Homo sapiens: one gene and its partners. The protein of the gene in region 4 interacts with the protein of the main gene of each other region in a pairwise test. Each region holds a gene or a part of one and is shown on either strand. Other genes may lie near its edges.

The links.
Region 1: the proteins of STK4 (region 4) and TRIM69 interact in a two-hybrid assay, tested with the Homo sapiens proteins (one study listed by BioGRID).
Region 2: the proteins of STK4 (region 4) and CSRP2 interact in a two-hybrid assay, tested with the Homo sapiens proteins (one large-scale study listed by IntAct).
Region 3: the proteins of STK4 (region 4) and SOD2 interact in a two-hybrid assay, tested with the Homo sapiens proteins (one large-scale study listed by IntAct).

The regions. Positions count from the first base shown.
Region 1 is NC_000015.10:44,760,528-44,764,027, forward strand, and holds part of TRIM69 (E3 ubiquitin-protein ligase TRIM69), read left to right. Parts: intron 1-3,500.
Region 2 is NC_000012.12:76,869,020-76,872,519, forward strand, and holds part of CSRP2 (cysteine and glycine-rich protein 2), read right to left. Parts: intron 833-3,500; exon of another isoform or gene 680-832; intron 1-679.
Region 3 is NC_000006.12:159,686,742-159,690,241, forward strand, and holds part of SOD2 (superoxide dismutase [Mn], mitochondrial isoform A precursor), read right to left. Parts: intron 1,502-3,500; coding exon 1,385-1,501; intron 1-1,384. UniProt on the Homo sapiens protein: Destroys superoxide anion radicals which are normally produced within the cells and which are toxic to biological systems.
Region 4 is NC_000020.11:45,074,512-45,077,516, reverse strand, and holds part of STK4 (serine/threonine-protein kinase 4), read right to left. Parts: intron 2,500-3,005; coding exon 2,341-2,499; 3' UTR 1-2,340. UniProt on the Homo sapiens protein: Stress-activated, pro-apoptotic kinase which, following caspase-cleavage, enters the nucleus and induces chromatin condensation followed by internucleosomal DNA fragmentation.

The DNA.
Region 1 (3,500 bases), on a different chromosome or scaffold from region 4:
GGTTATTGATTTAATGAGAAATCACAAATATATCCCTGATTTAATGAAAAATCGCAAATTTTTCCAGGTAATTGACATTGAAGAAAAATCAACTATACTGAGATATAGTTAACATAGAGTAAAATTATCCAATTTTAAGGGCACAATTTGATGAGTTCTGATGTATATATACACTTAGGTAAACCTCTCCATAATCAAAATATAGAAGATTTTTATCACTCCAAAAAGTTCCTACATGCCCCTTTGAAATCAATCTCTTCCTTCTACTCTCAGCCTCTAACATTCACTGACATGTTTTATTTCACTTTAAATGTGTCTTTTCTAAATTTTTGTCTAAGTGATAGCATACATTATGTAGTGTTTTGTGTCTTCTGGTTTTTTTCACTTAGCATAATTTTTTTTTTTTTTGAGATGGAGTCTCGCTCTGTTGCCCAGGCTGGAGTGCAGTGGTGCCATCTCTGCTCACTGCAAGCTCTGCCTCCAGGGTTCATGCCATTCTCCTGCCTCAGCCTCCCGAGTAGCTGGGACTACAGGCGCCTGCCACCATGCCCGGCTAATTTTTTTATATTTTCAGTAGAGACGGGGTTTCACCCTGTTAGCCAGGATGGTCTCGATCTCCTGACCTCGTGATCTGCCCGCCTCAGCCTCCCAAAGTGCTGGGATTACAGGTATGAGCCACTGCGCCAGGCCGCATAATGCTTTTTGAGCACTTATGTTGTTCCATGTATCAATAATCATGATTATTTATTCAGTTTACTTATTCATTTCCCAGTTGATGGACATGGGGTAGTCCATGGTAGTTTTATCCATCCTGCAATTAGTGAAAATCCCAGTTTCTCTATATCCTTTCCAAAACTTGATATTGTCAATCTTTTTAATTTAAACCATTTTATTGAATGTATAGTAGTATCTTATTGTGGTTTTAATTTGTATATCTCTTGTTTTGGTGGGAGGGTGGGACAGAGTCTCACTCTGATGTCCAGGCTAGAGTACAGTGGTGCATCTCAACTCACTGCAACCTCTGCCTCCGAAGCTCAAGTGATTCTTGCGCCTCAGACTCCCCAGTAGCTGGAATTACAGGCGCGCACTGCCATGCCTAGCTAATTTTTGTATTTTTAGTAGAGATGAGGTTTTGCCATGTTGGCCAGGCTGATCTTGAACTCCTGGCCTTAAGTGATCCATCCACCTCAGCCTCCTAAAGTGTTGAAATTACAGGCATGAGCCGTGGTGCCCGGCTGCATATCCCTAATGAGCAATCCTGTTGAGCGTCCTTTCAGGTGCTTCCTTGCCATTCATATATTTTTTTGGTTGTGTTCAAACTTTTGTCTATATTTTTGTTAAATTGTTGTATTATTAAGTTGTAAAGGATACAAATCCTTTATCAGATATATGTTTCTTAAATATTTTTTCTCACTCCATGGCTTGCCTTTTCAATTTATTTTTATTTATTTATTTTTTTGAGATGGAGTCTCACTCTGTCACCCAGGCTGGAGTGTGGTGCAATCTCGGCTCACTGCAAGCTCCGCCTCCCAGGTTCACGCCATTCTCCTGCCTCAGCCTCCCAAATAGCTGGGACTACAGGTGCCCGCCACCACGCCCGGCTAATTTTTTTGCATTTTTAGTAGAGATGGGGTTTCACCATGTTAGCCAGGATGGTCTCGATCACCTGACCTCGTGATCTGCCCGCCTCGGCCTCCCAAAGTACTGGGATTACAGGCGTGAGCCACCGCACCTGGCCATCTCTGGCTAATTTTAGGACTTGCTTTTTGTCACTTGCTTCCATCAATTTGATTATACGTGGTCTTGGTGTGATTTTCTTTGTATTTATTCTGCTTGTGCGTCATTGAGCTGCTTGGATCTAAGGGTTTATAATTTTCATCAAATTTTGAATAATATCAGCTGGTATTTCTTCAAATACTTTTTTACCAACCCCTTTTCTCCTCTCCTTCTTGGAGTCTAATTTTACATATTTTAGACAACTTGATATTGTCAAGTTGTCTCATGTCATCGATATTCAGTACTTTTTTAGCCTTTTTTCACCTCACACTTTATTTTAAATGGTTTCTATTGTTATTCAAGTTCTCATCTTTTCTTCTGCATGGTCTAACCTTCTGTTAATATTGTTCAAGATATTTTCATTTTATATACATTTCATTTCTAGAAGTTTCATTTGGGTCTTTTTATATCTTTCTTATCTCTTCTCACCATGTTCATGCCTTCCTCTACATTCTTGAAAAAATGGAAGACATTTATCCATTTTAATATCCTTGTCTGCTAATTCTATCATCATTGTCATTTCTGGGCCTGATTTTATTGTTTGATTGTTCTCCTGAGAGTCATATTTTCCTGCTGCTTTGTATGGCTAGTAATCTTTTTCTTTTTAATGGGCTTTATTTTTTAGGACACTTTTAGATTTTTTAATTTTACAGAAAAACTGAGAAGATAGTATAGAGTTTTTTATATGCCCCATCCTCACTTTTCTCTATTATTAACATCTTAGATTTAACATTTTTAACAACTAATGAACCAAATTGATACATTATTAACTGAAATCCATAGTTCCTTTAGATTTTCTTAGTTTTTACCTAATGTCATTTTTCTGTTTTAGGTTTCCATCTAAGGTGCCACATTACACTAAGTTGTCATTTTCTTTAGGTGCCCCTTGGCTGTGACAGTTTCTCAGGCTTGCCTTATTTTTTATGACTTAGATAGTTTTGAGGAGTACTGGTCATATATTTTGTAAGGATGCTGCACTATTGCAATTTGTTTGATGTTTTCCTCATAAAATTTGGGTTATTAATTGGGAGAGGAAGACAGTAGCATTAAAGTGTCATTGTCATCACATCACATTAAGTGTTCATACCGTCAACATGATTTATGACTATTGATGTTGACTTTAATCACCTGGCTGAGGAAGTGTCTGTCAGGTTTCTCCACTGTACTCTTTTTCCCTCCTTCTATACTTGTATACTTTGGAAGGCAGTCATTGTGCACAGCCCACGCTTAAGGAGGGGATAGTTATGCTCCCTCTCCCTGAGGGTAGTGTATTAATGTAAATTATTTGAAATTTTGCTGCCCTGGAGATTTGTCTCTTCTGGTTGGTAATTTTTTACTGGATGCCAAATATGATGAATTTCATATTGTTTGTACTGATGAATTCATATTGGTGAATTTTGTATTTGCTGGATTTTGTTGTAGTTCTTTCAGTTCTATTGAATTTAACTCTGGCATGCAGTTAACATGGTATGACATCATTTTGTTCCTTCTGAGGCTTAAATAAAGCCTAGTTAGAGTGGCTCAAGAGCAGCCTTTAATCTAGGGCTAACTTAGCCCATTTTCTAAAGTAATATACCCTTCTGATTACCCTACCTGACGTTGACATATTACGACATTTTTCCATTCTGGTTGGCAAGATTGAAAATTATTCCCAGCCTTGTGTGAGCTCCAGAAATTGTTCAGTCTATTGATTTCTGGAGGTTCTTTCTCTGGCCTTGACGAGT
Region 2 (3,500 bases), on a different chromosome or scaffold from region 4:
ACAGTATACCAGAGACTAGGTAATTTATAAAGAACAGACTGAGAATATAAATATTTGAAGGCTGGGAAGTCCAAGATCAAGGTATGGCAGGTTTAGTGTCTGCTAAGGGCCCCATCTCTGCTGCAAAATGGTGCCTCCAATGCAGCATCCTCTGGAGGCCAGGAACACTGTACCTTACATGGCAGAAGAGCAGAGGAGGGTGAACCCGCTCCCACCAGGCCTTTTTATGGTGGTACTAATCCATTCAAGAGAGTGGATCCCTCATGACCTAAACATCTCCCATTAGGCCCAACTCCCAACGTTGTTGCATTGGGAATTAAGTTTTAACATGATTCTCAGAGGGGACAAAAACACTCAAACCATAGCAACCCCCAACTCCAAGGCTGGGCATGTGACTCAGTCACGGCCAATCAACTGTGCCTTATCTTATCCTGCATGCCTCAGTTATGAGCCAATAAATTCCCTTCTTAAGTCATTTGGAATTGGAGCTCCTGTTCCTTAAAACAAACAACACACACACACACACACACACACACACACACACACACACACACACACACCCCTGACTGGTATGGCTTGTTATCACTAAAATGTAAGTCTGAATTTGCAAAAAGCCAACTTCTCTTAACCAGACAGGAACAAAGTCATTCCAAGGGTCCACAAATGTTACCAGGCTTACCGTGAAGGCATCCATATAGGATCAGTATCTTGCGACAATAGGACATGTTTACAAGCTTTCCTTTTGTAGCTGCATAAATCTTTTATTCTCCTCCCTGGAGACAGGCACTCCATTGTTGAAATCCAGAGTGAAACATAAGCCTGGCGGTAAAACCTAAGACATAAAGCCTTGGCTCCAACAGCCTGCACTGACCCGTGTTTGTAGTACAGTTAGAGAAACTGACCTTGCCCCTTGCCTCCAAAGCTACCTGTATTCTGAATGCTCATGGATGCAACAGACATCTGCTGGAAGTTCCCTCATGATTCCTGCAGAACCAAAGGCCAAATCCAGGCCTCCAGGTAATGACACTACAATTACTTATATTGGATCCCAAGTTATCAACTGGTTCTTAAAATACTTTGTTGTTGTCGAGGCATTTCTATCATTGAAACATTTCTCATATTAGAAAGTGAACTGTTAATACCAACTTGGTATTTTTCATTTTCACACATATTTACTTTGGAGCAATCACCAGTAAGGAGCCAGATTGCTATCACGACTGAGGCTAGACTAGGCTGTCTTTGAATAACACTTAAAAATACATTAAAAGGAAAACCCAACTAATAACCTTGTTATTCTCTTCCATACCATTGAAGAACAGCCTGGATTTTTAAGAAAGAAGGAATATCTTCCCTTTCTTTATGTAATTCAGGGTTTCTTTAAACTTACTTATTCTAAGTTAACTGCACCAGCCAAACGTAAATGTGTCAGCTTTTCAGGAAATACCTATCAAAGTTCCACAACATTCAACTTACTGTGCAATAAGTTTCTGGTCCCTTGATGGTGGGGACCACATCTCTGTATTCTCCACACCATCTATCAGAGTATTTGCATATATCAAAATATTGCAGTTCTATCCAGCTTAAGGGCTTTCCTAAGGATTTCTGAATAACCTTTTCTGTGATAGAGGGAAATGATGTAACAAAAGAACATTGTCAGAAAGCTTCAGTTGGATTTACATTTTTTTTTTTTTAAGATGGTTAGGGAGCCAGGTGTGGTAGCTCATGCCTGTAATCCCAACACTTTGGAATTTGGAATTTAGGGAGACGCTATATTACCTATATTTAAAACAAATTTAAAAAGAAATTAGCCAGGCATGGTGGCACACACCTCTGGTCCCAGCTACTTGGGAGGCTGAAGTGGGAGGATTGCTTGTGCTGGGAATGTCAAGGCTACAGTGAGCTATGATTGCACCACTGCACTCCAGCCTGGGCAACAGAGCAAGATGACCCTGTCTCAAAAAAAAAAAAAAAAAAAAAAAAAGTGGATGGTGATAGTTGAATATTCCTTATATTGTTCTCTACTTTGTATGTCTGAACTATTTCATAATGGAAGGAGGGAGAGGAAGTTGATTGACTGGTTTAAACACACCTGGATTAACTCCACCGTTATAATAGCTGCGCAACCTTGGGCTTCATTTTCTCAAGCTAAAAATGGGGATAGGTAGCTCTCTCTACCCACAGAAATATTGTGAAGGCAAGATAAGGTAAGCAAATGCCTTGGCAGGAATCCAGTAGCTGTCAGCTTGAAGACAGAGGGGACATCTCACTCTATCCAGCCTGCTATCAGTACTCTAGTAGGAAAACCCACCAACCAGCACCTAGAACATAGCTGCAGAGCAACAAACAAGGTAAGGACAAAACTGAGCTGATTGGTCACTATAAACCTTCTTTTTTGGGGACATTAAAATGCACTCCAAAGTAAAGCAACAGTTCCACATATGGTGGTGACTGTCTAAGAAACAAAGTTCAAGCCGGATGCGGTGGCTCACGCCTGTAATCCCAGCACTTTGGGAGGCCAAGGCGGGCAGATCACGAGGTCAGGAGATCAAGACCATCCTGGCTAACACGGTGAAACCCCGTCTCTACTAAAAATACTTAGCCGGGCGCGGTGGCAGGTGCCTGTAGTCCCAGCTACTCGGGAGGCTGAGGCAGGAGAATGGCGTGAACCCAGGAGGTGGAGCTTGCAGTGAGCCGAGATAGTGCCACTGCAGTCCCGCCTGGGTGAAACTGCAAGACTCCGACTCAAAAAAAAAAAAAAAAGAAAAGAAACGAAGTTCAAATTTGCACTTTTAGGCTGAACCTCTAATGGACATTTCCTGAATTTGGCTGGAAGAAGTATGATGATCTTCCATTTCTGTCACTCTTGGCATTGCTGTGCATAAAAAAAAAAAAAAGCAAGTCTTCATTTTTCTTACAAGCCTTTGGCCGTACTACTCCACTACAGCTGCCATTAATCACAGCAAACTGGATTTGCACTAAGCAATCTGGGCTGCATGCCTTTCCCAAATCCTAGGCATTAATTTACAGAATGGTAAAAGCAAAAATAAAATCCCACTTTACATGTGATAAAATAGGGCAAATTCTGTTTCTCAGTCTTGTTCCTTGTTTTTCAGTGTCTGAAAGAGTTCCAGCACTAGGATTTATCCACTGTATTACATGTTACAACGTGATTTATATCTGAACACCTATGTGCAATTTCTCCTTGCTACCTCTTCTTAGCCTAAGATGCCACCAAAATTCATAAGACTCACCCATGCGGAAAAACTGATATAGTCTAAGTCTGAGTCGTCTTATGGTACAGTTAGCTCACTCTCTAGATAACTGTGGTAGGAGTTATTACGAAATTATTTTAGGCAGATAGAGAGGAAAAGGGGTCCTTGGGAAGTTTTCATTTTTTAAAGCATCTCTGGAAAAGTTTCTTGTAAAGCCCTGGCTCTTAGAGCCAGGCCAGCAACCTTTGATATGCAAATGCAGGCCATGTGGGCCATGCAAATGCCCCA
Region 3 (3,500 bases), on a different chromosome or scaffold from region 4:
GCTTATTTCAAGTGCATAAGATAGGCTGCCTTCCATAACACTGATTAAAAATGAACAATAAAACCACAGAAACTTAGGGTGCATATCCGGAGCCCAGAAACAAGAGACAAGAACTACATTTACGCCTCATGCCCTCCCTGGGTGAAGAAGATAATTAAAGTCATCTGGGCCTCCACAAGCTACACAGGAAGTCAAGGAAACAGTGATAGCGAACAAGACCATCTAGCCCTGTACTCTCCTCATTCCCTGAACACTTTTTAAAAATACCCAGAAAACCTAATTTCCTGGAACAACTGACTTTTTATCAGTTAGGAAAGAGTGAAAAATAGCAAATGACACTATAATTTAATTCTCAAAACAACACCATTGTTATCCCTGTATCACATAGATGAAAAAAGGTACAGACGGTTAACTATCTAATCCAGGCCCTAGAAACTAGTAGACAGAAAGTTCATCTTTTCTAGACTGGCGCGGTGGCTCACATCCATACCACAGCACTTTGGGAGGCCAAGGTGGGTGGATCACTTGAGGCCAGGAGTTCGAGACCAGCCCCGCCAACATGGTGAAACCCTGTCTCTACCAAAAATATAAAAATTAGCCGGGAGTGATGCCACATGCCTGTAATCCCAGCTACTTGGGTGGCTGAGACACAAGAATTGCATGAACCTGAAAGGCGGAGGTTGCAATGAGCCGACATTGCACCACTGCGCTCCAGCCTGGGCGACTGTAAGACTCCGTCTCAAAAAAAAAAAGTTCATAAAATGAAGTCTCTCAGTCTTTCCCTAATATGAAGTACCATCCAGAAACCAGAAGGTGGAGTTGATGTGATATTCTATGTTGGCGTGAACATAAAATCTTATGACATAACCCCATGAAAGCATTCTCCATTCCTACTTGTGTCCTTTTGAAAGTTACAACTTTTATCATACTCGTTGTTATGAAAAATATGCCACTATGATACCTCTGGTAAGAATAAGGTAACTTAGGCCAGGCACGGTGGCTCATGCCTGTAATCCCAGCACTTTGGGAGGCCAAGGTGGGCAGATCATGAGGTCAGGAGTTCAAGACCAGCCTGGCCAACATGGTGAATGAAACCTCATCTCTACTAAAAATGCAAAAATTAGCCAGGCGTGGTGGCGGGCGCCTGTAATCCCAGCTACTTGGGAGGCTGAGGCAGGAGAATCACTTGAACCCAGGAAGCGGAGGTTGCAGTGAGCCAAGACTGCGCCACTGTACTCCAGCCTGGGCAACAAGAGCAAAACTCTTGTCTCAAAAAAACAACAACAAAAAAAACAAAAAACAAGTATAAGGTAACTTCAGTAAATCAACAATCGATTCCTACTGTGCACAAAATGTAGATAAGGGTGCACCAATATATACCAACCTTTGGGTTCTCCACCACCGTTAGGGCTGAGGTTTGTCCAGAAAATGCTATGATTGATATGACCACCACCATTGAACTTCAGTGCAGGCTGAAGAGCTATCTGGGCTGTAACATCTCCTGAAAAGTTAAAATGCAAACACATTTTTTTGTAACTCCTACTTTTTCAACCACTGTATACATTATATTTTTTTCTTTGTAAGCTATTAGATAATGGGACCAGCTTATCTATAACATCCGTTTGTCCTAAAATTCAGCACCCCCCCGCCCCAAAATTATTTGTCCCAGACATGCTGAACAACTGATGAAGGACCTAGCAGAGGTGGAAAAGCTAGAAAATTCACTCCTGGCTGCTAGGCTCAGGGATCTCTTAGATAGAAGAGATTTTAGGAAATGAAACACCAAAGAGGACAATCAAAATAATAGAATGCTAAAATGTATGGCTCAACATACAGACTGTACAGAAAACCTTCAACTCTCACTTTCAAGACAGACGACGATTCATTGGGAAATATCTCCAAGTCACATTAACAAGAAACTCAACATACTCAAAATTGAACTCCTGATGTTCTACCCCAAACTTACTCCTCCTATTGTCCTCCACGTCTCAGTAAATGCCAGCTCTGTCCCTCAGGACATCCTTGGGAACCTGATGTCATTTTTGACTCCTCTCCCTTCACCCCACATCCAATCCACCAGCATATCCATTAGCAAAGCCAGCTCTACCTTTAAAATACATCCAATCTATATAAAAGCACACAGAGAAAAATAAAAGAAAAAAATAAAACACAAGCAGAACCTAATCCCTTCTCCCTAACTCTACTGCCACCTCATTGGGACAGAGGACCAGTATTTCTCACTGCACTGGTGCCACTATCCCCTCAGTTTTGGGGGGTGGGGGTGGGCCTTGCCCCCTCCAAAGGCTCCCCTTCTCACTGGAGCGAACCCTAGGTGTTTACACTCAGCTACTCTTACTACCAAGAGGCGCTGCACTTGACCCCGTCATTGAGCACGTGCTCACGCAGCTGCAGCCTCACTGGCCTTTTTGCACTCACATGACCAACTTGGATGTTCCCCTCAAGGCTAGCTGAGCACTGCTGCCTCTGCTGAACACTCTTCCCCAAGACAGTCTCATGCTGCGTTCCTGTTCCTCCTTCAAGTCTCCACTGAAACATCAACCCCATCAGTGAAGCCTTCTCTAGCCACCATACATGAATTAGCAACTCCCTGCCACCCCTCCCAGACCCTTTACTCCTTCTCAATAGGCCCTGTAACTCCTGGCATACTGCATGGGTACCTTGCCAAATAAGTAGGCAAAATAAAATAGTCTTTTCTATGCCTTCAAGAAGCTACAGACTAAATGAACTATTAATATTAGAAAAAAATGGAAATCCTCTTGTTTAATAAATATTTTGTGCATATTATCCACAAGATACCAAGAGAAGCAAAGTAAAGGACACAGAGACCCACTGAGAGCTTTGCTCTCAAGGAGCTTACATTTTGGAAAAAGTTCTCAACTGCTGTTCTGAAAGTGTACGTTAAGAACATATGTCTGGGCCGGGTGCGGTGGCTCACGCCTGTAATCTCAGCACTTTGGGAAGCCGAGGCGGGCAGCTCTCTTCAGGTCAGGATTTCAAGACCGGCCTGGCCAACATGGTGAAACCCTGTCTTCACTAAAAATACAGAAATTAGCCAGGTATGGTGGCGCGTGCCTATAATCCCAGCTACTCAGGAGCATGAGGCAGGAGAATGGCTTGAACCCAGGAGGCAGAGGTTGCAGTGAACCAAGAACACGCCACTGCACTCCAGCCTGGGCGACAGGGCAATACTCCGTCACAGAAAAAAAAAAAGAAAGAGAAAGAAAAAAACATACATACAAGGCCAGGTGAGGTGGCTCACGCCTGTAATCCCAGCACTTTGGGAGGCTGAGATGGGCGGATCACTTGAGGTCAGGAGTTCCAGACCAGCCTGGACGACATGGAAAAACCCTGTCTCTACTAAAAAACCCACAAAAAGTAGCCAGGCGTGGTGGCGTACGCCTGTAATCCCAGCTACTCAGGAGGCTGAGGCAGGAGAATTGCTTGAACCCAGGAGACGGAGGTTGTAGTGAGCCGAGATC
Region 4 (3,005 bases):
CAGAAGAATCGCTTGAACCCGGGAGGCGGAGGTTGCAGTGAGCCAAGATCGTGCCATTGTACTCCAGCCTGGGCGACAAGAGCGAAAATCCATCTCAAAGAATAAAAAGAAAAAAGAAAGAGAGAGAGAGACAGAACTATTAATTCGCACAGCAAATGGTGCAGGGGTGTGCATCCTGGATGCTTTGGTTTTTAAAACTTACTTGGCTATCAGACTTAACTACTAATTCAGCTGTCTTTCCAACCTAAAAATGCCAGTTCGAGTTATTTAGTCTATGCAAGAAAAGGTGGTCACTTCATTTTAAACAGGCTTGTGACTTTCCTTTTTTGTGTAAATATTGACCCCCTATAGTGATGCTATGAATCCTGATTCTATCATTTACTAGCTGCATGACCTTGGGAAGGAATCTTTCTCTCTGAACTTATTTCTTCAACTACAAAATGGAGATAAAGTAGTTAAGTCACAGGGTTATTGTGAAGTTTAGAGCCTACCCAGCTCAGTGCCTGATATATAATAGGTGCTCAACAAATGGTAGCTGTCATTTATTATTCCAGCAAGATCCTCAAATTGTCCTCTGTTTTCCGTATCCGCCACATAGCTATTTCAGTTGCCAAGCCCTGAAGACTAACAACTGCCTCTTGCATTTTTTAAAAACTTGCTTTAATTGCAAATAACAGAATCTGGCCACAGAAGAGGCACATTCCCTGCCTTTCCATTGATTCCCAGGTTTCAGGAGCAAAAGCAATTATGGAGTCAAATTACAGTATCCTGAGGTGCAACCCAGTCATGGCTCCCCATCTGAGGGAAAGAGGTAAAGTTGCAGGAAGATGGCTCTATGCTGTCTTTTGCAAAGCCCTCTGATCTGCTTCAGGCCCGAAACCTGCCTCCATGGGTGCTTGTCTGCTATATCTGGTAGATGTTGTGGAGCTCAAGGACTCGCTGAAACTGAATGATCTGGCTCGTCCAGGGAATCTCTTTACAGCCAGGTCATCTACTGAAGAGCCAAGGCAAGAGCAAGTTTCTGTTAGCAAGGTTCCCTGGAACAATTAACCAAGACTGACACAGGTCTCTTCCCCCAAAGAAGGGGCTGCATGGTTCGGTGGCCTGGGAGTGAGGACCCTGAATTCTAGTCTCAGCTCTTAACGCTAACTTGCTTTGTGATTTTGGCCATTCCCCTCTCTACACCTCAGTTTTGCGATCATCCGTACAAGAGGATCAGATCAGATGATCTCTATAGTCCCTTCCAGCTCTGACATTCTGTGTGTTCAGATTGAGCCTCCTGGAAAACAAATCTTAGTCTAATATTCATTTATCCTTTCCAGGCTGCTTAGCAGTAAAAGAGAAAAGAAAACAGTCACATATTTGAACGTGGGTCACAAAAGCAATCCCCTCTACCCCTGTGTGTAAGGAATGTGGAGCAACATGCCACGTGTATGATTTTTACATGAACAATGAGAGCTTCAAAAACGCTTTTCCTTTGTGGACTGAACACAGTCCCGTGTTTGCTGAGAGTCCCTGGTAGAGATCATGTCTCCTCTTAAGGCACTGGGCAGTATCTGTGCTGTGACTTTAGGCAGTTGAGAGAGTGGAGATGGATGAAAGGCATTGAAAGAGCAAAGGCCAATTTGCAAAGAGGGTGCCAGGCTTCTCCTGGGACTCAAAGAGTAAACATAAACTCTCAAAGCTTTCCCTTGGACATCACCAATAGCTCCAGAAGCCAGTGATGACCACACAAGGCTGAAACCACGGTACAAGAACTGTCCCAAACCTAATTTTTAAATGCAGCCCTGCAAAGGGGGAGGTTGGCTCCTGGGATTCAGTGACCCCCTAACAGCCTCCCGGTGTCCTCTGCCCTCATGTTCCACAGTACCATAATCTTACAGAAAAGAGGCAAACCGTTTAAAACTGTACCTGTACAGAGATGCCACCACACTGCGTGGGGAATCTATTTATAATTTATATATATATATGCATATTTATATTTTTTTAAAAGTCTTCCAGAAAGAACAATTGAAAGCTATTGGGAGAAGAAAAACAGACAATGTAAAACTTTCCCAGCTATCACTCAACTAGGAGTCTCTGTTCCTGGGGTTTAAAACTCTGAGTTAAAAGCGCCAATATAAATCCTTTGAGATAATATACCTGACCAATGTACATACACACATCAAGATGGCACGCTGACTGTCAAGAGAGCCCTTCCCACTGGCGCACATTCCTGAGTTCACAAAGGTGCTGTGGAGAGACGACAGAGCAGAAGTGCTGGCTAACAAACATGAGGCAAGCCATCCAGAATTCACCCAAAGCCTGGGTGGAGCTGGGGCCCTCACAGCCTGGCCTTGCTCAGAAGTTTTGTTGCCGTCTCTTCTTAGCCTCTATGGCATCCAGGATGGGCTGCCGCTTGGACTGGTACTTCTGCCGGATCTCTTCAATCTCCTGCTCCATCATGGGGTCCAGGGCCAAGAGCCTCTTCTGAAGGTCCTCCACTGTCCAACTCTTAAGCTAGAAGAGAAGTGGAAGGTATAGTCACGACAAAGCTTAAGTCAGTGGCAGAACAGTGCAGAAGCCCAGCCTTCCCAGGCACCCAGAGGGAAGGGAGACAGGAGGAAGACACTGTGGTCAGATCACAGGTTGAGTGGTGGTGGTTGGAAAGTGACAATTCATTCCAAAGCATGGCATACCTTGAAGCTTGTCTGAGATAATTTATCCCTGGAAGAGATCTAAGTGCTAACCGCTTTGATTTAATGTGCCTTGACCAAGAACTTAGTGAATAATACTCTCACCTCCCCTATCTTTTAAGTTAATTAAATATAGATTCATTGTTAGGGCATTAAAATAACAGTAACTTGCTGTATGTGAAATAATGGTTGCCTCCCCGTTCTTGTTCTGTCTACGAGATAAGCGTCTATCTGGACAGCGCCTTTCCCACTTTCAGGATACGACACCATGGAGGATCGATGCTGATGAGGCGCAGATGCCATCCCCTAACCCTGCCTTCCCACACCCCC